Linked DNA regions of Homo sapiens. The protein of the gene in region 2 interacts with the protein of the main gene of each other region in a pairwise test. Each region holds a gene or a part of one and is shown on either strand. Other genes may lie near its edges.

Region 1 (7,767 bases), on a different chromosome or scaffold from region 2:
AGAGACCCCCATATCTACAAATTATAAAATAAAATTAGTTGGGCATGGAGGCATGTGCTCATATCCTCAGCTACTCCATCGGCTGGGCAGAAGGATTGCTTGAGCCCAGGAGTTCGAGGCTGCATTGAGCTATGATTGCACTACTACACTCTAGCCTAGGTGACAGAGTGAGACTCTGACTCAAAAAAAAAAAAAAAAAAAAAAAAGGGAGAGAGAGAGAAAGAGACAAGCTGAGAGGAGGAAGGTAGGGTGGGAGGTGTGCTGCAATGCCACAGAGACAGCTGGGCTGATCAGAACAGACGCCTAAGGGAGAGAAAAGTGCAAGGTCCAGGTACAAGCTCCACTATGGCCAGTCCCTGCCCTCAGCTCTGACAGGATACAGAAGAGCAGAACCCCCAGAAGCTGCCTTGCGATTTTTCCCTGCACAAAAGGAAAATGTGGGGTACTTTCTGCAGCCTAAGAAGTAGCCAAAGCAGGAAAAGGGATGCTCATGTATCCCCAGACTTGTCTGTTCCTAGAACTTTCTGTTACCTAGTTTAGTCATGGCCTTATAGTTTCTCTTCATATACACATAGCTGATTTTCTCCGAGTATTTCATCTTTTTCCACTCTTTCTTAGAGAAGTATGTGGCAATATCATCAAAGGCCTAAAAAAAATAAAATAAAATTTGTCAGTGACTCAGCTAGGTATGTCTGCCATTCAGCTGGAGCCGCTTCCTGTGTGCTGGATCTGGGAAGTGAGGATGATAATCCGTCCTGGTTGATGCCATGGCTAACTGAGAGACCATGGGGGACCTACCCTAGCTTCTCCCGTGGCACACATTAGGGCTTTAATGCTGCTGTCTGGCTCTCTTCCCACCTTCCAGAATGGACTGAGAGTTACCAAATGTAGAGCAAGGTCAGAGACTTGTCTCCAGGGATGCTAGGTGATGACAGAACACAGGTGGGAGGCTCCCAAGGGTCCAGATCTCCCCCGAGACCCTGCTCCTTGTCCCCAGTACCTCTGTCCTCCCCTCCTCAGAAACCTGGTCACCCTACTCTGTCCCCTGGACCACTGCTCTGCCCCCTCCAGGTCACGTCACCTTGCTTCTCTTCTCTGATGCTTTAGCATCATCCCTGGGTCTCTTTGCAAAGGTGTCGTCTCCGTTCATGGCACCAGGAGCAGTCTCACCTGCAAGAGAAACAGCCTGAGACTTTCTAGCTACAGGACCCTTGGTCCTATGGAGGGAGAAATCAGTGAAGCCCGGCCACACTCAGTCACCTGGAATTAGGGGTTGCATTTCTCCATTCGGGGCTTACCTGTCCATGGGTAAGGACATGGAGAGAAGTCAGATGAAAACAGGGAGCCTGGAGTCTCTGGGAGAAGTATTGCTTGGGGATGACAGGTTTCCTAGCAGCCTTGAGTCTTTGGGAGGGGGTTGGCTAGTGTTGTTAGTAGTTTCCCTGGGGCTAGGCTTACCCTGAAAGATGTACAGACCCTTGCTGGGGAGGCAGGGACGTGACTGTGTAATTTTATTGAATGGGGGCGTTCTGACACCCCCACTCAATAAATAAAGGGAGGGAAGTGAGTCCCAGACATAACGTGGTCTTTCTGGTGATGGATCTGATCAGGCAGAGGGATGGGGGGGTTCTGTTCTGTTGAAGAGAAATGACCTTCACTAATATGAACAGATTTAGAAGCTATTACTGGGTTATTTGTAAATTATTAGAAGGAAGAGAGCTAGAATCTCTGAGATTACAAGAGCCTGCCATCACTTAGAGAAAATGTGGGGTGTTTCAATTTGCAGCAATCGGCCAGGCGCAGTGGCTCATGCCTGTAATCCCAGCATTTTGGGAGGCCGAGGCGTGCAGATCTCTTGAGCCCAGGAGGTTGAGACCAGCCTGGGAAACATAGCAAACCCCTCATCTCTACAAAAAAAAAAAAAAAAAAAAAAAAACAACCACACAAAAAATTAGCTGGGGGCGGTGGCACAGGCCTATAACATCTCAGCTCTTTGGCCAAGGGGGGGCGGATCGCTTGAGCCCACGAGGTTGATACCAGCCTAGCCAACCTAGAAAAACCCTCTACTAAAAAAAATAAAATAAAATAAAAAGTATTAGTGGGGGCGGGGTGGTGCTCGCCTGTAGTTCCGAGGCCGAGGCAAGAGGATCTCTTGAGCCCAGGAGGTTGAGGCCAGCCTGGCCAACATAGCAAAACCCCATTTCTACTACTAATAATAACAACAAAAATAATAACATCAGCGAGGTGGTTCTTGCCTGTAGTTCCGAGGCCGAGGTGGGAGGATCACTTGAGCCGAGGAGGTCAAGCCCAGTTCGGCCAACATAAGGAAACCCTGTCTCTACTAAAAAGAACAACAACAACAAAACTAGCAGGGGCGGAATGGCACACATCTGTAGTCCTGAGGCCAAGGTGTGAGGATCGCTTGAGCCCAGGAGGTTGAGGCCAGCCTGGCCAACATAGTGAAACCTGGTTTCTACTAAAAAAAAAAAAAAAAAAAGCATGGGCAGGATGGTGCACTTCTGTAGTCCCAGGGCCGAGGCGGAAGGATTGCTTAAGCCCAGGCGGCAGAGGCCAGCCTGGCCAACATAGCAAAACCGTCTGTACTAAAAAAATAAAAAATAAAAAAAATTAGTGAGGGTGGGGTGGTTCGTGCCTGTAGTCCCGAGGCCAAGGCGGGAGGATTGCTTGAGCCCAGGCGGTTGAGGCCAGCCTGGTCAACATAACAAATCCCCGTCTCTACTAAAAAAAAAAAAAAAAAAACAGGGGTGGGATAATACAGGCCTGTAGACCCAAGGCCGAGGCGGGAGGATCCTCCATGATGATCGTCCTGAAAGGCATTAGTTGTCTTTCAGTCCTCAAGATTTTCGGAACCCCAAGCACTTGACGGCCCTACAGAGGCTTCCTCCTTTTCTATCTGCCCCGATTAGCCCATCTAGGGTGTCCCTTAAAGAGAACCTACTTCAGAGACAAAGCAGTGGTTGCGAGGTCGGCAGCAGTGGTGGCGAGTTGGCAGCAGTTGGTGACAAAGTGTGGCTGGAGGAGGAGAAAATATTCTGCAATGTCATTGCTCCAGGATGATGGACCAATCAGGGCAGTTAGTGAACTCCATCTGGCCAATCAGAAGTCAGAACAGTAGGCGGGACAAGCCAAGCTGATGTGGGGTCTATCAGTCTAGGCTCTAGGGACAGAACCTTCTCAAAATGGAGGCAGAAACTCTGACTTTCCCGCCTAAAGCATCCCCTGGGATTGGCTACTCCAAGTTCAGAGTACGCATGCTCTGATTTTCTCTTTGGAGTCTTCCCAAATCAGAGTACGCATGCGCTGATTTTCTCTTTTCATTTTTCCTATCCCTCCCCACCTCCTCGGTGGTGCATTGTTATCCAGTTTTAATAAGGAGTGTATATGAAGCAGGTCATCATCTCAAATCCTTCCTGTCAGTTTCTATCTTTTTCAGGTATGGGATTTTTTCCTAGGAACTCTGTAGTGACGTAAGAAATTTGGGCCGGTGCGGCGGCTCACGGTTGTAATCCCAGCACTTAGGGAGGCCACAGCTGGAGGATCACTTGAACCTGGGAGGCAGAGGTTGCAGTGAGCCATGATCATGCCACTGCACCCCACCCTGGGCAACAGAGCAATACCCTGTCTCTTTTCTCTACAAAAAAAATAAATAAAATTAGCGAGGTGGGGTGGTGTGCCTGTAGTCCGTTACTCAGGAGGCTGAGGTAGGAGGATAGCTTGAGCCCAGGAGTACGAGGTTGCAGTGAGCCATGATCTGGCTACTCCTGCCTACCTGGGCCACAGAGCGAGATCTTGTCTTTAAAAAGAGAGAGAGAGAGAAAGAGAAAGAAAGAAAAATTTCAATGAGCCAGTCCCAGTGGCTCATGCCTGTAATCCCAACACTTTGAGAGGCTGAGGCAGGAGGTGGAAGGATCACTTGAGGCCAGGAGTTCCAGAACAATCTGGGATACATAGTGAGACCCCCATCTCTATAAAAAATTTTTAAAAAAGAAATTTAAACAAAAAAAAACACTTCTACACTTCCATATATGTTTTTTTCTAAAAGACCAAAGAAGCAGAAATATATTTTACCCATTGATATTAATAATATTTATAATAATAGTATTAAAAAGAGTATGTAATTAGGGCCCACTGTGTTCATCAGGGAGCTCATAAGTCAATTTGTCTAAGAAGTTTCCCCTACCCCCATCCCTAGTACCTCCAACAAGTCCCCATTCCTCTCTGGGCTTTCCACCTACAGCCCTGATCTCTCTAAGATCCTCCCAGGATTACAGCAAGCTCTCTTAGGGCAGGAACAGAGCAATGGCCCTTGAGCCCAGCACAAAGCCTTTTATGTGCATCTTCCCATTAATTTTCACAACCTTCTCTGGAGTTAAATACTATTATCATCCCCAGTATGCAGATGTTGAGACTGAGGCTCAAGAGAATTAAGCAGTCTGCTCAAAGTCACATAGTCAGTGGGTGACAGAGCTGGGATTCACCCCCAAGATAGAATTGAGTCCAAAGTCTGTGCTTTTATTTATGTATTTATTTATTTTTAATTAAAATAATTTTTTTTTAGAGATGGGGTCTTGCTATGTTGTCCCTGCTGATCTGGAAGGAACTGCTGGCCTCAAGCAATCCTCCTGCCTTGGCTTCCCAAAGCACTGGGATTACAGGAGTGAACCATCCCACGCCCGGCCTCAAAGTCGGTGCTTTTAATTACTCTTCTATATTGCCTCGACTACTTGTTGAATGAATGAATGCATCTTACAACTGCAAAGGTTCTTTAACATAATTTACATAACTCCTTACAATCACCCCATATTCCCTCTGACTGCTGTAACAAATTACCGCAAACTTTGTGGCATAAACAACATCAATTTATTCTCTCACAATTCTGGAGCCCAGAAATCTGAAATCAGTTTCACTGAGTTGAAATCAAGTTGTCAGCAGGGCTGTAGTCCTCCAGAGGCTCTAGGAGAGAACCTGTTCCTTGCCTCTTCCAGCTTCCCGTGATTGCCAGCATTTCTTGGCTTGTGGCTTGATATGGATTGGCTCTGTGTCCCCACCCAAATCTCATCTCGAATTGTAATCCCCACAGATTACAAATCCCCACGGGGGTGGTTTTCCCCATGCTGTTTTTGTGACAGTGAGTTCTCATGAGGTCTGATGGTTTTACAAGCGTCTGGCATTTCCCCTGCTTGCATTTCTGTCTCCTGCTACCATGCGAAGAAAGTCTTTGCTTCCTCTTCACCTTTGGCCATGATTGTTTCCTGAGGCCTCCCCAGCCATGCAGAACTGTGAGTCAGTTAAATCTCTTTCTTTTATAAATTACCCAGTCTCGGGCAGCTCTTTATAGCAGTGTGAGAAGGGACTAATATATGGCTGCATCACTCTAATCTCTACCTCCATGGTCATTGCCTTCGTTTGTTTTCTGTTACTATAATGGAATACCACAAACTGGGTAATTTATAAAGGATAGAAGTTCATTTGGTATACAGTTCTAGAGGCTAGGAGTCCAAGAACATGGCGCTGGCATCTGGTGAGGGTTGTGTCATGATGGAAGGATGAAAGGCAAAAGCAAGTGCAGGAGACAGACAGAGAAAATGTGACTAAGCTCCCTTTTATAACAAACCCAATCTCGTGATAACTAATCCACTCTTATGATAATGGCATTAATCACTTCCTAACAGCCCCACCTCTTAATATTGTTAACAATGGCAATTAAATTTCAACACAAGTTTTGGTGGGGACGTTCAAACCATGGCAGGCTTACTGCCTTCTTCTCTTCTGTCTGTGTCAGATCTCCCTGCCTTAATCTGATAAGGACACTCATTATTACATTTAGGGCCCACCCAGATAATCCAGACAATCCAGGAGAATCTCCCCATCTCAAGAGCTTTAACATAATTACTTTTTTTTTTTCGAGACGGAGTCTCACTCTGTTGACCAGGCGAGAGTACAGTGGCATGATCTTGGCTCACTGCAACTTCTGCCTCCCGGGTTCAAGCAATTCTTTGCCTCAGGCTCCTGCATAGCTGGGATTACAGGTGCCCGCCACCATACCCAGCTAATTTTTATATTTTTTTTAGCAGAGACGGGGTTTCACCATCTTGGCCAGGCTGGTCTTGAACTCCTGACCTCGTGACCCACCCGCCTCGGCCTCCCAAAGTGCTGGGATTATAGGCGTGAGCCACCACACCTGGCCAACATAATTACTTTTTTTGTTGTAAGCTAACACTCACAGGTTCCAGGTGTTACTATGTTGCTATCTTTTGGAGGGGCGTTGTTCAGTCTACCACAGCCTGCCCTCTGGCCCCCAAGTATTCACATCTCTCCCACATGCAAAATACATGCACCCCATCCCCAAATCCTCAAATGTCTCAAACCGTGCAACATTAGCTGAAGTCCAACATCTTATCCATATAAGATCAGCTCAAAAGTACCAAATCTCCTCATCTAAAACAGATATGGATGAGACTCTGGTTATGAAACATCCTGGGGCAAAATTCTCCTGCCGTGAATTTGTGACACTAGAAAGCAAGTTATTTATTCCAAAAATAAAGTGGCGAGACAGATGTAGGATAATAGTTACAGATATTTCTATTTCAAATGGGAGAAAATGGAAGGAAGGAGTTGCCACTTCCAACCATTTTGAAATCTAGCAGGACAAATTCCATTTGGTTTCAAGGACTCAGAATAATCCTCTGTAGCTTGAAGCTCTCCCCTCTCCCATCGCCCTCCTCTCAGAATGTATGTCATAGTGATTCACACCTTTAGACCAGCAGGTCCTATGTGTATCTTCCCAGATAATATCATTTCTAGACTGGCTATGGCTGAGCATAGTGGAAGAGCTCCTTGAGTCACGTGCCTAATCTCTTCAGCACTAGCAAACATGGCCACATTCTTGACTTTCTCTCTAGAGGATACCTTCCTGACAGTGCCTCTCCTAATTTTAGTGTCTTTTGCAATCTTGATAGGCTTAGAATTTCCCTGGATCCTTTTTGTTTAACAGTCCTTTCCTCAGTTTATCCTTTTCCTCTAACATTTTACTAGAACTTGAATTGGAGTCCAATATAAAAATGAAAAATTATGGGACTAAGACTGGGGATAAAAAATGATGGAATCTCTAGGCAAGTTGCTGAGGGTTTATGAAGGATGAGCCTTGGGAATGGAGTCTTATATATGATCAGATTGGTTGTGATTGAAAAGAAATTGTTCATCCGTTTATCTAAAAATCGACCATTAGTGTCAAGGGTGCAATGAAGCAGGGCGAGTCTACTCCTCTCGTTTTGAATTAGGTTTTCTTAACATGTTGATCTGTTTTTTCTTTATCTTTTAAACAATCAGTCTAAAAAAAGGGGATTTTGTGTTTTAAGATAGTTTCCTAACTGCATTTATTAGGTTTTGGTTTTTGTTTTTGTTTTCTGAGATGGAGTCTTCCTCTGTCGCCCAGGCTGGAGTGCAGTGGTGGGATCCAGCCACCGTAGTAAGCAAGGTTGCTTACTGCAACCTCCACCTCCCAGGTTCAAGTGATTCTTGTGCTTCAGCCTCCTGAGTAGCTGGGATTACAGGTGCCCACCACCACGCCCGGCTAATTTTTGTCTTTTTAGTAGAGACGGGGCTTCACCATGTTGGCCAGGCTGGTCTCGAACTCCTGACCTCAGGTGAGCCGCCTGCCTCAGCCTCCCAAGGTGCTGGAATTACAGGCGTGAGCCACCATGCCCGGCCTTTTGCTGTTGTTGCTGTTAAGACAGTTTCACTATT
Region 2 (7,904 bases):
CAGAGAAAAATGTTAAAACAATGGTTTTGTGACCTTAAAGTCTGTGTTAGTCCCTTAGCACCACCGCTGAGATTTTGCTGAAAGGGACGTTTTGTGTGTTGGGCTTCACTGAAGGAAGCCCCTGAAAGTGTTCAGAAATAGGGAAAATGAGAAACTGTTCCAGCTGAAAATACGGGCAAGGGGGAATCATTGAAGAAGACAGAATATTGAAGTGTTCAAATGAATAAAGAAGCTAAAAACTAAATCATAAGTATTTCTGTTTCTTTGATATATATAAAAGGAAAATGTTTACCAGGTGAATGTGATCAGCTAGGCATGTTTTGAAGGCAATTGTAGCCAAAATGTAACCCCAACTCGCTCAAATTCTACATCCAAACCTTTCAGAGGAATGTCCAAAAAAGAAATAATTTTGTAAAAACTAAGTTTGGAAGATTCAGAAACAAAATTCAGAATGAATTTTGTAGGAAGGCTGAAGGAAATCCTTTTCCAGAGCTTTACTGGGCAGTTGGGGTAAATCACAATGACTCATTTATATAGATCTTCAACTTTTCGCTGATCTTCCAACTTGATTTTCTTTCAGACTCTAGTTGCAGTGACACATAAACTATGGCGCAGGCTTAACTCATGTCTGCCCTCTACTTATCCTCCCCGCCCCACTGCTGGGCTCACTGTTCTGGAGCACAGTGCAGGGAGAAGACAGCTCTCATCCCTCCTGTGTTGCTCTCCTGGGAGTTACTTCTCCAGATCCTATGGTCTTTTCACCTCTCCCATCACAACTGTGACAAATCAAACACCTCTCTCCTGACCACCGTCTCCTGGAACCTGGGGTCTACAGTCCCTCTTGATACAATGAGACGACCTTGCGTTCAGGTGAAGGGTGAATGTGGAACCAGCTACGCTTCCCTCTCTGCCTACCTCCTCCTACTGCATAACCACAAGGCTATGTGGATGGAGCAGATTTATCAAAAACTAGGGCTAATTTAACGGACTTACAATATAGGAGTGAATCAAAGGTCAAATTATATGTTAACATCAAACTTACACTAGAATAAAAGCCATGGAGAACTTCAAAACAGAGATGGGCAGAAGAGTCAGCATTAGCAGGACAGTCTAGGGTGGCCTTTGCATTCCATACTGAGCTCCTGATGTCCTAGCCAGTGGGGTTTGAATATGTCTCCTCTTCTTGCCAACACACATCTCCCAAAGGCAAATGGTGATTTTCAGAGACAGCAAAGTCCAGATTTCTATAAATGAACAGAAACGTTCCTTAAATACAATGAAGACTGTACAACTCTGCCTACTGGTGGGGATAAGTTTTTTTGTCTGTTTGTTTTGTTTTTTGAGATAGGGTTTCCCTCTGTCACCTAGGCTGGAGGGCAGTGGTGTGATCATGGCTCACTGCAGCCTCGACTTCGAGGGCTCAAGGGATTCTCCCACCTCAGCCTCCCAAGTAGCTGGGACTACAGGCACATGCCACCATGCCCAGCTAATTTTTGTATTTTTAGTAGAGACAGGTTTTCACCATGTTGCCCAGGCTGGTCTCAAACTCCTGGGCTCGGTGATCCACCCACCTTGGCCTCCCAAAGTGGTGGGATTACAGGTGTGAGCCACCACGCCTGGCTGGGGAGAAGTTTTAATTTTCCTTCTACTTCCAAACCATGGCCAAAGGCTATGGGAACACAAGAAAGGGGGTATGGGTAGCCCTGGTGTTTCCTCACCTACTGGCTGCACAAAACACCTGGCTAGAGTTCTGAAATGACCACTGCCCTGTGCATGAGGCCTAAATACACCCCTACAACCTGGGATGCCTCACAGGACTCTCCCCAAACAGGAGGGAGGCAGGGCAAAGGTTTATGATCTTCTTAGCTAAGCAACTGGTGGCTTTACCAGTTGTTCTAAGGAAACAAAATTTCAAGCAACTTCTGCAGATGAACTTTCCAGGATGAATTTCAGCTGCTTTATGTGCATACCCTTTCCACTAGTTAGTAAAAATGACCAAAACACGACTGTTGCAAGACTTTTCTCTCTAAATCTGTGGTTCTCAAGTAGGGGTAATTTTGCACTCAGGGGACATTTGGCAATGTCTGGAGAAATTTTTGCTTGTCACAGTGGAGAGAGGGGAGGGTAGAGGGAGATGCTACAGGCATCCAGTGGGTGGAGGCCAGGGAATGTGGCTAAAAATCCTGCAATGTGCAGGACAGCCTCCAACAACAAAGAATTTTTGGCTTCAAATATCAATAGTGCTGCTGCTGAGAAACCCTGCTCTAAAGACTTGGAAAAAAAAATGAGATTTAGGTTCATCTGTGACCAATATTACCAGTCATATCACTCCTGAATTTCACTTTAAAAATTCATTAGCTGATCTTCTTACACATCATCCCTAAGAAGTAGATTAAGAGTAATAATGGCATTTACTGAGTTCTTACTATGTGCTAGGTTCTGGGATAAGGACTTTATATACTTTATCTCACTGTTGTCCCTGTTTTCAGAAAAGAAAACTGAGCTCCGAGCAATGAAGGAAGTTGCAGATGCACATAAAACTTAAAATGGCAGAGGGAGGAATCAATGCAGACATGGAGTTCTGAAGCTTTTGCTGTTGCTCTCAGTGCATTTCTAAGGAAACCCAACGGTATCCATTTCATTGACCAATTGCTTTGTACCCAAAATTTTATTTTTCATAAGAGTTTTTCATTTTCTGACAAAAACTATTTGTTAAATAAACATAACTTCATAATTCTGATCACATCACTTGGAGCAAATTTGACTGATACATTTTAAAACACATGGATTAAAAAAAAAACTCCTTCTTTCCCGAAAAAGGAAAAAAGGAATGTATTTTTCATATTTTCATCTCCAATTTAAGGAATTCATTTTTGGAACACATATTATGCTTTAAATGGTGGTGCCAGGTAAAACTGCAAGGAAGCTTGTGCTATCTGGAGACACCCATACTTTTTTTTTTTAAGGACCATTTTGTAACTTTACAACAGCATATTGCATTTTTATATTCATGTGCCTGTCTCCTTCATTGTCCTGTGTATTAGTTTTCTACTGCTGCATGAAGAATTTAAACAGACCTAACAGCTTAAAACAACACCCATTTAATAGCCCACAGTTCTGAAAGTCGGAAGTCCCAGCACAGCCATGGCATCACTGGGTTCTCGCTCAGGTTCTGCGAAGGCTGCAATCATGGTAATAGTCAGGCTCAGTTCTTGTCTGGAAAAGACAACAAGTTTGAGAAAAAAATCTGCTTTTCAAGCTCATTCGGGTTGTTGGCAGAATTCAGTTCCTTGCAACATTGGCCTAGGCAAATAATTTATGACTAAAACCCCAAAGGAAGTGCAACAAAAACAAGAATAGACAAATGGGCCTTAATTAAACTAAAAAGCTTCTGCACAGTAAAAGAAACAATCAACAGAGTAAATAGACAACCTACAGAATGAGAGAAAATATTTGCAAACTACGCATCTGACAAAGGACTAATATCCAGAATCTACAAGGAACTCAAACAACTCAACAAGAAAAAAAAAAAACCCATTAAAAAGTGGGCAAAGGACATGAACAGATATTTCTCAAAAAAGACATACAAGTGGCCAACGAACATATGAAAAAATGCTCAACATCCACTAATTATCAGAGAAATGCACATTAAAACCACAATGAGATACAATCTCACACCAGTCAAAATGGCTATGATTAAAAAGTCAAAAAACAGCAGATGTTGGTGAGGGTGCAGAGAAAAGGAAACATATATACGTGTTGGTGGGAATGTAAATTCGTGCACAGTGCCTGGTTCAGAAGACACACTTTACAGAAAAAAGCTGGCTGAATGTTTATAACGTGTCTGTGTTTGTAGTGTTCAAGTCCTGAGGGCGAGGACCCTAGTGCATTTTCTGCAATCCAGTAATGCCTGTCCAGTATATGGCAGCCAGTGAGCACTCAACAGGTGCAATCGTTGGGCCACACACTCTTGTTTTAAAATGTGCTTTATCCTCTTGACCTTTTTAGGTTATGCAATGTGAATTCAAGCTGAATAATACTGAAGCCAGTCTTATGAGGCTCATTTCTAAGAAATATTCAGCTTTACGTAACGCAAATAAAAAATCACACACGCCCTTTGCAAGTGAACATTCATATTAGTGTCTGATAAATGCATTAAGAAGACACATTCCCTTAAATCAATCGGAGAACAGAACTTTGGTTTCTGCAAAAAGAAAAGCTCCCTTTTCCTTAGATTTTCTCAGCTCCTCCACTGCTAGCCCCAGACAAGGTCCAAGTTATCTGCAGTTCTATGGCCTCCCTTGCATTTAAATCGCATTTGGGCAAACGCTTCCTGGGCTTTCTAACTCCACAGAAACGCTAACCAGGTATTGGGCGCTCGCACCGCTTCCAGGTAACCCGCGGAGCTGCGGATTCCAGGCTCGCGCTGTGACGTCACCGGGCTCGCAAGCCGCGGCGCGGTCTCAGGCTCCGGTGATTGGCTGGGGCCCATGACGTCACGGCCCGGGGCGGCACCGCGATGGCCAGGGCCCCGGGATGCTCCGGGTTTGTTTAAAAATAAAGGGGGGGCGGGAGCGCCCAGGAAAATCCGGGCGCCCGCGGGGGTGCCGGCCGCTCCTCCCGCCGCCCCGCGTCCCGGCCCGGCCGCGCCAACCCCCACGGCGGCCCGCAAGGGGGCGGGGGGAGGCGGGGCGGAGGAGGAGCCGCGGGCGCGGCGCCGCGCTGTCCCCGGCCGCCGCCCGCCCCACTCCGCACCGCATGTAAACAGTCCCAGCCGGCCCAGCCCGGCCCCGGAGGAGCCCGCGCAGGCCGAGCCGAGCGCCGCGCTGCCCGCCCGGGAGGAGGGCGCCTAGGAGCGGGAGGGCGGGCGGCGGCGGGAGGCGGGCGCGGGGCCGCGATGGATTTCCAGCAGCTGGCCGACGTTGCGGAGAAATGGTGCTCCAACACGCCCTTCGAGCTCATCGCCACCGAGGAGACCGAACGCAGGATGGATTTCTACGCCGACCCCGGCGTCTCCTTCTATGTGCTGTGTCCGGACAACGGCTGCGGCGACAATTTTGTGAGTGCCTGGAGGAGGGACCGCCGGAGCCGGCGGGAGTGTGGACGCGGCGGTGCGTCCCTGCGCCCGAGCTCCCGCGCGGTGGGCGGCGGTGGGCGCAGAGTGGGGGGCCGTAACCCGCGCCCCGCGCCCCGCGTGCTCCGCCGGGGAAGCCCCGGGCCGGGCGGTGCGGGCTCCGCTGCCCGGGTGGGGCCCGGTGGGCGGCGGGCAAGGCGCCCGGAGGATCCGGGGAGCCGGGTCGGGGCGGGAGGTGTGGCGTCCCCCTAAAGGCCACTCCTCTCCCCGCTGCTGCGGGCGCCGTTTCGGGAACCCGACCTCGCGGCCCGTGCGCGGTGCCTGGCATGGAGCATCCCTGGGGTGTGGGTGTCACCCGCGTCGGACCAGCCGGGTCTGGGGCGCACGGACCCTCCGGCAGGAGCCCAGGTCCGGAGCTTCCCACATCCAGGCGTCCCGTCCGGGATAGGAATCCCGCTCCCCTCCGGTGCCCAGCCTCGGCTCCTCGCATTGCCCCTCCCGGGAGAACCCCACTCCCCGCCCTCGCGGGTTAGTCCTTGCACTGCCTGTTTGGACACAAAGCTCTGTCCATACTAGCGATGCCCGATCTCCTGGACCTTCTTTGCGGAATTACACCCCGGATCTTAATACGCACGCGCGCCTGCGCATACACCCCAACACACACACACACATGCTCACACCCTCACCCTCACACGCGCACACTCACGCGCACACGCGGCACGCCTCTCCCCCTGCCCCCGCGCTGCCCTCGCTGCCTCTCTGAGCTGCCCGAGAGGTGTGTGTGGCCCGGGCGGGTTCTCTCCAGCCGAGGCGGTGCCCTGGCCCTGCTGAAGCCCGTTGGCTTTTCCAGATGACGGGGAATCCCCTCAGCCCCGGCTCAGAGGGACCGGGAACTGGGACTGCGGTGTCCAAACCTTCCACTTTGAATCCTGCACCCACCTGGGATCCCGACTCTGGCAGTTGAGGAAGGGGATGCGGAGGGCAGGGGAGTCGGGGTGGGAGGGGTGGAGTAGGGCGAGCACGGTGCTCATGAAGTGTTTCCAAGGTCGGGGAATAAATAATGATCCCCAAATGTAAGATGGAGGCGGCCGTGGGCGCGGGTGACCGTGTGGTCGCGGGCCTTGTGGGCGGAGGTGGGGTGGTGCGGGGCGCGGCCTGGTGCACGCTCCTCAGGTGGGGGAGACAAAGCTGGGCCGTGGTCCTGCCGCCGAGCGCCCTGACCACCTACGGGAAGTTCGCGAAGGAGTTAGGGAGACTGCAAGACCGCCTTTCTTGGTCCTGGAGAGGTGAAGGCTTATGTATGCCTGGCCGATAAAGCATTCCCTCCGCCCACACGCACCCCCTGAGGAGGGCAGGGATCCACCTGGGCATTCCACAAGTGGCACTCCAGAAGAGGGATGGCCTTGTGTGACAGCCAGATTTGAGTTCTGGCTCTGTGACTGTGCTCAAATACCCACCCTGAGCTCAGTTTCCACATCCAAAAAAATAGGTATAATAATGCCAGCACCCAGGCGTTCATATAGGTAACGCACCGAATAGTCCCTAACACACAGCAAGAGCCCCACAAATTTGGGGTTAGAGACCTGGGGTTTCCCAGAATTTAGAGCTTGTCTCATTTTTTAAAGAGCCTTGGTTTTCCCACCTGTAAAATGGGGCTAATCAGAATACCTCCAGAAGAGCCAACTGAACAATAATATTAATGCCTGTAAGCCCATCTTAACTGTAGGTAAAGTAAGTAAATAAGTGTTCTTTTTGGAAGGAGTGGGAGATCATTAAAAAGGGATTCACTCCATTGCAAAAGTGTGAGAAAGCCCCCAGGATACAGTGGAAAGGGCACCAGAATCCAGCTGACTGTAAAATGTTAGGGTTTGGCTAGGGTCCCTTCCAGCTCTGGGCTTCCTTCATCTGCCAGCGCCCTTTCTCCCTCCTGACCGTGTGAAACAGGGCAAGAATGGCTCATGGTTCTGGATTTCACTGGGGAGAAGCCCACACAGCCTTCCTGCTGGGACCGCCCAGGCCATACCCAAAGAAATGACTCCAAAGACAGTAAGTGGGCCAGGAAGACAAAAGGCTGTTCTCTTGCCATGAATATGTGTATCCAACCATCGTTCAGAAGTAAGAAGTATTATATTATTTGTATCAGGCCTTTCTCTTGAGGCCACCCAGATTTTAAATATTTTCCCATCTGCATGAGAAAAATGCTTGAAAGTGTCATGTAAACTGACAATTTAAATAGAATAGATAGAAAGATAGAGGATGGGGGTGGGCAGATGATTCCTTGGGTAGAATGGAACTTTCTCCAAGTTCTGGAGGCTCTAATGGACAAGATGCCAACCTCGGGAGTTTTCCTAGCCGGACCTCTTGAATCTGTCCCAGGCCAGGTTTGTCAAGCTACTGTTTGCCTCTAATAAGTGTCCTGCCTTAGTTCTTTTCTTTTTCCCTGGAAAATGTATTAAGCATTAGACAAAAGTGTGAGATCAATGGAATTTCTATTAGTTGAAGGACTTAGCAATAAGAATGTCTACATGAGCATTTCTCAATTTACAAAAGTATTTCCACATCATTCATTCATTCATTCAACAAACATTTATTGAGGGTTTACTTTGTGCCAGGCCAGTGCTATCTAGAATACAAATAGGGTCTCTGCCTTCATGTTCCTGGGGCAATTTTTACTTGTCTAGGAAGCAGTGTGGTGTGGTGGTTAAGCACACAGGCTGTAGATCAGACTACTTGGGTTTGCACCTCAGCTCCCCGTATTTGTGTGCCTTGGGAAAGTTATTTAACCCCTCTATGCCATACTTTTTTTTTCTTTTTCTTTTTTTGAGACAGT
Region 3 (7,000 bases), on a different chromosome or scaffold from region 2:
GTTTGGTTTTGTAGTCAAAGAAACTGTCATGGGGTAAAAACTACGTCTTCATACATATCTTGGGTTAAACTGTTTCAGTTAAAAGAAACACTGAACAATGGTGATGATTTTGTATGCATATTGAGTCCTTTATTAACATGCAAACAAATGACATGGGTTTCTTACAATAGTGAACGGAGACTGGATGACTAGTGCACTACCATCAAAACAGATCACAGAATTTTGATCCGCCAAACTTGATCTCCAGGAGTATATTAGCCAAATTTCTGTCCCATGAGATGGCATTACACGCATTGTAAGAGCTGGCTTTCTCACTCTCTAAATCTATCACAGGCTCTACTCATCAATATACTAATAATTCCTGCTGAACTCTAAGGAACTCTTTCCCACAGAAGGAATATACCCTGGGCCGCTCACAGACAACGCTCTCCCGCCGCTGGCGCTGGTCCGGGATGCGGCCCCGAGACCCCTGCAGCCGCGCGCTGGCTCAGGGGACCTCCGCAGGACGCGGGCGGGCGCCGGGGCCGGGTCGGGCTTGGGCAGAGTGACAGGCTCCCAGTCGTGAGCCTCACAAGCAGATCTATTTACAATATCCCGGATAGGAGTCCAGGTCGCGTCGCTCGCGTCGCCCGCGGGGACCCGGCGTGAATTCACACGCTCCCCTCCCACCGCCTCGCCGCCTGTCACGGCCCCGAGACCCGGTCAGCCCCTTCGGGGGTTCCCTTCGCCGCGCAGTACTCCGCCCGTGAGCAGCCCCCGCCTGCGCTCCTCCCTCCCTAGGGCGGCCGCCTCCACTCCCGGCTCCCACCCAGCGGGGATCCACCAGGGCGAGGGCTGAAGACCTCGCGGGACGCCGCGCGCCGGGGACAGCGACGCACCTACCTTCCCAGCCACCTGGGAGGCTGCAGGTCCGGGCCGGAGCCCGAGGCTCAGGGGCGCGCGGAGCAGTCCTGGTTAAGGCGCAGGGCGCGGGGTTGCATGGGGGTCCAGTCCAGCGTGCACACCGTGCACCTCCCAGCGCAGGGCTCCGCGCTCTCCCGTAGCCCGGCAACGGCCGCCACCCCAGAGCCCCGCCCACTAGGAGCCCCGCTCAGGGCACCGCCCACCCGGGCCCCGCCCTCACCGCGGCTCTCGCCGTGGCTCCGCCCCCGTCCAGAGCCCCGCCCCCAGCGCACACTGCGTCAGCCGGACTTGCTCTGCAGCTGGGTTCTTTGGAGGCCCCCACTCCGCGGCTACTGAAGCGGATGAGTGTGAGGCTGACTGGGGGCTTGGGGATGGGGGACCGGAGACCACCAAGAACATGGCTGTGTTGGGAAACTTTCCTTCAGAGCAGAGAGGGAGGGTTCCTTTCCGCCGGGGTGTTCCCCACCTTTCAGCCTTTCCCGCGTGGGCCCGCATCCCAGCCAGAGGGGATACGGCGGCCAGGTCTGCGCTGCTGCGCCTGAGCTCAGGTCGGCAGAGGTCGCAGACCTCGGCTCCTCAGCCGGCAGGGACTCGCAGGTGCGCGTTCCCACGGACGCCTCCCGGGGAAGCCCGAGTTCGCCTCCTGCAGGCCGGGAAGCACTCGCCCCGAGACGGCCGCACCCTCGCAGCGGAAGGGCGTCTGCACCACAGCTGTAGCACCAGCGCGTGCGAGGCGGGGCCAGGGCCGGGGACTCACTGGGCAGTTTTGCTGAAAGGGTTAAGAGAATCGCGTCTGTAAAATACTTTTCCACCAGTAGAATGCTGTAAAAGTGCAAGCAGTATTGTTCTATTCGTTCACCCAAGATACGGTGCATGACTTTGGTACCAAGGCATCCACCGTTTCTCACGTGTTGGTTTTGACTTCCCACTCAACTGCACTGTGTGGATGGACCCAAGTCCCTGTTTCTTGTCTATACCCCAAGGCCCACTGGAGCCCCTCCATCAGTATTTGTTGAATGAATGAGTGAATAGGTTGTTGTATTTAATTGCCCAAAAGCACAGCTTGTGATCCCAGGCTTCCAACGGCGTAGCACTATACTAGGTACTTGTGAACAATGTTAAAAATATTATTCCCGATGTCACACCTTGATAGAGGTTGTATATTTCAAATCTAACACATCCAGAATATAGATCCCAATAACGACTTATTGGTAAACGATTTCCAAATGATGTACGTTATCTAATTTGAACCTCAAGGCAAGTGTGTGCTTCCCTGTCCCATCTCCCAGCGGCTACCCGATCAGACTCCAGCCCTCAGTGCACATCACTACCATATTCATTCCCACATCCCGCTGAACTTCTTTATCTGTTTCCTTCCCCAGCTACACCTGGATCTCCCGAGGGCATCTCCTAATTCCTTGATATCCCGGGGCCTAGCACACGATGGATACTCAGCACTTCTAAGCTGAGTTACTGCATCTTCCTTTGCAAGGTCTCACGCAGTCCCCCATCGTCCTCTCTTTGTCTTGGTGCCCACCACCTCCTTCACCACCATGCAGACCCTCCCCACCCCTCACCACAGCACTGCCTCGGTCATCAACCCCGCTTCCCGCCTTTCATCACTGCTACTGTCAGGCTGAAGAGTCACAGGAGGTTCCTCACTGTAAAGAATGGATTCTGCGCTCCTTAGATTAGCATTCCGAGATGTCCAGGTGCAGCCCTACACCTATTTCCAGCCTTGCCTCGCCTCTGGAGCAGGCTTTATAAACTGCGCCGCGTGGCCCTTCCTTTGCTCTCTACTTCCTCTTCGTGCTCTCCCATCTTACCTCTGAGCTTTACCTACTTGTCTTACTCCAGTTTCAGCACCTCGCTCAAAAGCCACGGCTCTCACGAGTTTTCCCTCAATTCTGAGCCTATGTATTTCCTTGCTCCAAGGTTTGTGGCAATTTAGCACTTGCCCATTGTGTCCTGTATCATAAGATTCTGTGTACTAACTTTCTTCTTCAAGGAGTTAAAAACACTTTCAGAGAAGGGGCATATTTTGTTCCGATTTGTATCTCTGACAGTATCAATCATTCAAATAAATGTTCAACCAAAGCTTTCTGAGTGGAATTGAATCTGCCAGCTCAGGAACTACCTTCTCTGACTTCAACCAAATGTTCTTCTTCTCTCTGACCTCCTTTTGTCCTTAGAGACAGTAGTAACACATTACTCAGTTCATTAGTTCTTGAATCATTTTACGTGTTTTGACTGATCTTCCCGGTTAGCCTGTTAGCTTACAACAGAGAGAGAACCTATTGTTAGCCTGAATGGGCTTGGGCATCTGACAATCTGGTCCCAATGCCAACCTGTCATTCAGTAGTTGCATGACTTTGGAAAAGTTACTTAACCTCTCTAAGTTTCTGGTTCTCCATATGTAAAATGAGTTGCTTCATTGATGGTTGGTAAGTATTAATAGATAAGGTATTTAAAGTGCTTAGGCCAATGCCTAGCACTTACTAAATAGCCATTCTTAGTAGCAATATATCCTCTTACAATGCCTAGCATCAATCAATAAATGATCATTGACGGTGAGAAAAAGGACATTGAACCTCTGGACTCCAGCTGTTAGATTCATCTAATTCTTTAAAGAGACTCATTAAGTTAAACACAGTTGGCCCTCCACATCCATGGATTTTACATCATGGCTTCAACCAACTGCAGATTGAAAATATTTGAAAAAAAATGAATGGTTGTGTCTGTACTGAACATGTACACTTTATTTTGTCATTATTCCCTAAACAATATGGTATAACAACTATGTACACAGCATTGACATTGTATTAGATATTATAAGTAATACAGAGATGATTCAGAGCATATGCAAATTTATACCATTTTTTGTAAGGGACTTGAGCATTTGCAGATTTTGGTATCCAAGAGGGTGTCCTGAAAGCAGTCCCCCTCAGATGCTGAGGGAACAAACACTATAGTTCCCACTTTCCCTCATTTGAGTGTTGTATGATTTGGAGACAGTGTCTGAACAAAAACTCAGGCACACAATTGAGCACCATAGTAGTATAAAAAGAGTTCTGTGGGCCGGGTGCAGTGGCTCACGCTTGTAATCCAGGCACTTTGGGAGGCCGAGGCAGGCGGATCACCTGAGGTCAGGAGTTTGAGACCAGCCTGGCTAACATGGCGAAACCTCGTCTCTGTAAAAATACAAAAATTAGCCAGGCATGGTGGCAGGTGCCTGTAATCCCAGCTACTAGGGAGGCTGAGGCAGGAGAATTATTTGAACCCGGGAGGCAGAGGTTGCAGTGAGCCAAAATCACGCCACTGCACTCCAGCCTGGGGGACAGAGCAAGACTCGGTCTCAAAAAAAAAAAAAAAGAATTCTGTGATCCTTAGGCTCATGCAAAATGAAACTGGATGCTTGTAATTAGGACTGGGAGCATTTTACTTCCTTTAAAACACTGCATATCATTAATGGGTTAAAATTTTTACTGGAAAAGCAAAATTGCTATGACAATCTTGATAGAGGTGTTTGTTTTTAAGATTTATGTTAAAAGTTAGTTTTCTGAAGATAGTTTTAGCAATATCTGAGCTGACACAAAGTGCATTTGTTTAAAATATTTTTCCCCAAAAGTTGAACTAAGGAAAACTTGAAAAACCCCTGAAAGAATAGTTTCAGTGATAAATTAGCTCGCTGGTAGCAAAGCTAATGAAAAATTGCCTAACTTCTAGTCATTTCTAGTGTAAATCACTATTCCTTGGGAAAAAAGTGGAATAGAATGCAAGCTACAGGAGAATATGAAATTTTGTCTCTTTGGTTTACAGTTTCTGGCACATAGTAAGTTCTCATTAAAAATTTGTTGGATGAATTAGTAATTGAGAGTGAGAATCTCAAAGAGTAATAAAGTTTTCCAAATACAGTTAAGAAAATAAGTGGAGGAGGAACCCCCAAGACCTAGCTATTTAAGTAATTCCCGATACCCACTACTGCCAATTATAGACTATCAGCATGGGGCTGAGGGAGCACCGTGAGGCCAATGCCCAGTGACTTCCTGAATGCTGCACACCAAGTTAATTAACAAAGCTGGAATCAGAATCTGGGCTTTCTGTATCTTAACATAATCTTCACCATACCATGGGTGCGTAAACCAATATATATGAAAAACCCAAGGAGGCTATTTTTATAGCCCCCTCCTGTAAGTGGAGCTCAAGACACTTACAGAGCAAAGTTGTTACAAGTTGCAGCACTTGCACTGATCTTTGTGAGTTTGGCCCTGAGTACCTCATTGGCTAGACCCTTTTCATGAGTTCGATGAGGGAAGAGACAGTCCATTGACTCTCCTTCTCTCCTTCCTGATGAACATGGTGGACTCCCCGACCTAGGGCTGGCTTGAGGCCAGGCTGGCTGGGCAGCAGCCCATGGTGCTAAGCTATAGAGCCACCAAAGAATGGGGGGCATTTAACAGGATGGAGAAAACTATCTTTATCAGAACTCCTCTCAAAGACAGTGGGTTATGTTGGAAGGAATGGTTTTATGAAGTCATTGGAAACCCCCACATGACTTCTCCTTCCCCTTCTCATCAAAGAGAAAATTTAAGTCACAAAGGAGGGTTTTAAACTACCTACTTAATCTAAAGAAGTGAGTATTGATTTTGGCAAGTGGGTGGGTTTGAGGTAACAACTTTGGAGCCAAAGCTGAATGACTAGTGACAGTAGAGGAGAAATTAAAGCACAGCCAACACAGCCACCAGGGAGCCTCCCTCTGCCCTCCCATCACAGAGCTCACCCAGGTGGACAACGTTTTAAAGAACCATCCTTTAAAGGGGACAAAATCACTCATTCTTCCAGGGTGGCTTGGACTGGCCTTGCCATCACAGAAAGAGAATCCGACTAAACCAATGCCAGATGGTTGAGTTCAGTTCACTCCTGAAGCAGAGGGAGAACAGATTATGCCTTCATGGCTTAGGGAGGTCCTTTATGGCCATCCTGACAGAAAATACTATTAAAAATGTCTAATAGTTCTTACAAAATATATAAAAGGAAAAAAAAAAACTGGAGCCCATATTTTTGGCCAAAATTTTGGCTATAATGTTTGCTGACAGTCAAGTTCAGCTTTGTGTAATTCTTAAAAAGAATGAATCACCTAGCCCCAGAACAAAAAAAATGTAGATCACAATGCTGCCACTGAATTATTCCTATAATCTTGCACATGTTATTTATCCTTGCACAAGTACTTGATATTGAATTAATTGATAATGAGTGAATTAATAAATATTAGGTCATGTTAGTAATAATCTTGTATATGTAGGAATCCTAAAGAGGGTGATAAGCCCTATTATGAGGGCAGTTGTTTGGCCATGAGAGTCCTGTATTTGTATAAAATTTTATTAGTAACTAAATTAAAATTTTTCACACAAGATATAGATAGATAGATTTTTTTTTTTTTTTTTTTTGAGACAGAGTCTCACTCTGTCACCCAGGCTGGAGTGCAGTGGCGCCATCTCGGCTCACTGAAAGCTCTGCCTCCCGGGTTCACACCATTTTTCTGCCTCAGCCTCCCAAGTAGCTGGGACTACAGGCGCCTGCCACCTTGTCCGGCTAATTTTTTGTATTTTTAGTAGAGATGGGGTTTCACCATGTTAGCCAGGATGGTCTCGATCTCCTGACCTCGTGATCCGTCTGCCTCGGCCTCCCAAAGTGCTGGGATTACAGGCGTGAGCCACCGCTCCTGGCCCCAAGATATATTTTTTCAAGGAAGAAAAGCAAAGAGATAATGAAAACATGCTCAAGAGTCTTAACATAATCAAACATGATATGAAACACATATCATATCATGTTTGAAATGCACATTGAGTTTGTCAACTGAAGTTTCACAGAATCCCACTGGGAATTTCCCTGGAGGAAAATTAACCTTTAATTATTAAACTGTTTTTGGATGCCACTGGCATCATCTAAGAAAATATCAATTCCTTCAAAACACACAAATATGTGTTGATATAATGCCAAACTCGTATGTACACACACACACAGAGGCAAACACACAAATACATATATAATTCCACATCACATTGATGCATTAAACTTTTTGTGAAAATTATTTTAC

The links. Proteins that work in one complex are often made in the same cells at the same time.
Region 1: the proteins of MTURN (region 2) and SSX1 interact in binary tests that used the Homo sapiens proteins (3 or more experiments, as listed by UniProt).
Region 3: the proteins of MTURN (region 2) and TNFRSF19 interact in binary tests that used the Homo sapiens proteins (3 or more experiments, as listed by UniProt).

Annotation. Positions count from the first base shown.
Region 1 is NC_000023.11:48,250,625-48,258,391, reverse strand, and holds the start of SSX1 (protein SSX1), read right to left. Parts: upstream 3,001-7,767; 5' UTR 2,960-3,000; intron 2,342-2,959; exon of another isoform or gene 2,256-2,341; intron 1,171-2,255; 5' UTR 1,151-1,170; coding exon 1,082-1,150; intron 647-1,081; coding exon 532-646; intron 1-531. UniProt on the Homo sapiens protein: Could act as a modulator of transcription. Plays a role in spermatogenesis.
Region 2 is NC_000007.14:30,130,240-30,138,143, forward strand, and holds the start of MTURN (maturin), read left to right. Parts: upstream 1-4,746; 5' UTR 4,747-4,897; coding exon 4,898-5,059; intron 5,060-7,904. UniProt on the Homo sapiens protein: Promotes megakaryocyte differentiation by enhancing ERK and JNK signaling as well as up-regulating RUNX1 and FLI1 expression. Represses NF-kappa-B transcriptional activity by inhibiting phosphorylation of RELA at 'Ser-536'.
Region 3 is NC_000013.11:23,573,412-23,580,411, reverse strand, and holds part of TNFRSF19 (tumor necrosis factor receptor superfamily member 19 isoform 2 precursor), read right to left. Parts: intron 1,053-7,000; exon of another isoform or gene 883-1,052; intron 1-882. UniProt on the Homo sapiens protein: Can mediate activation of JNK and NF-kappa-B. May promote caspase-independent cell death.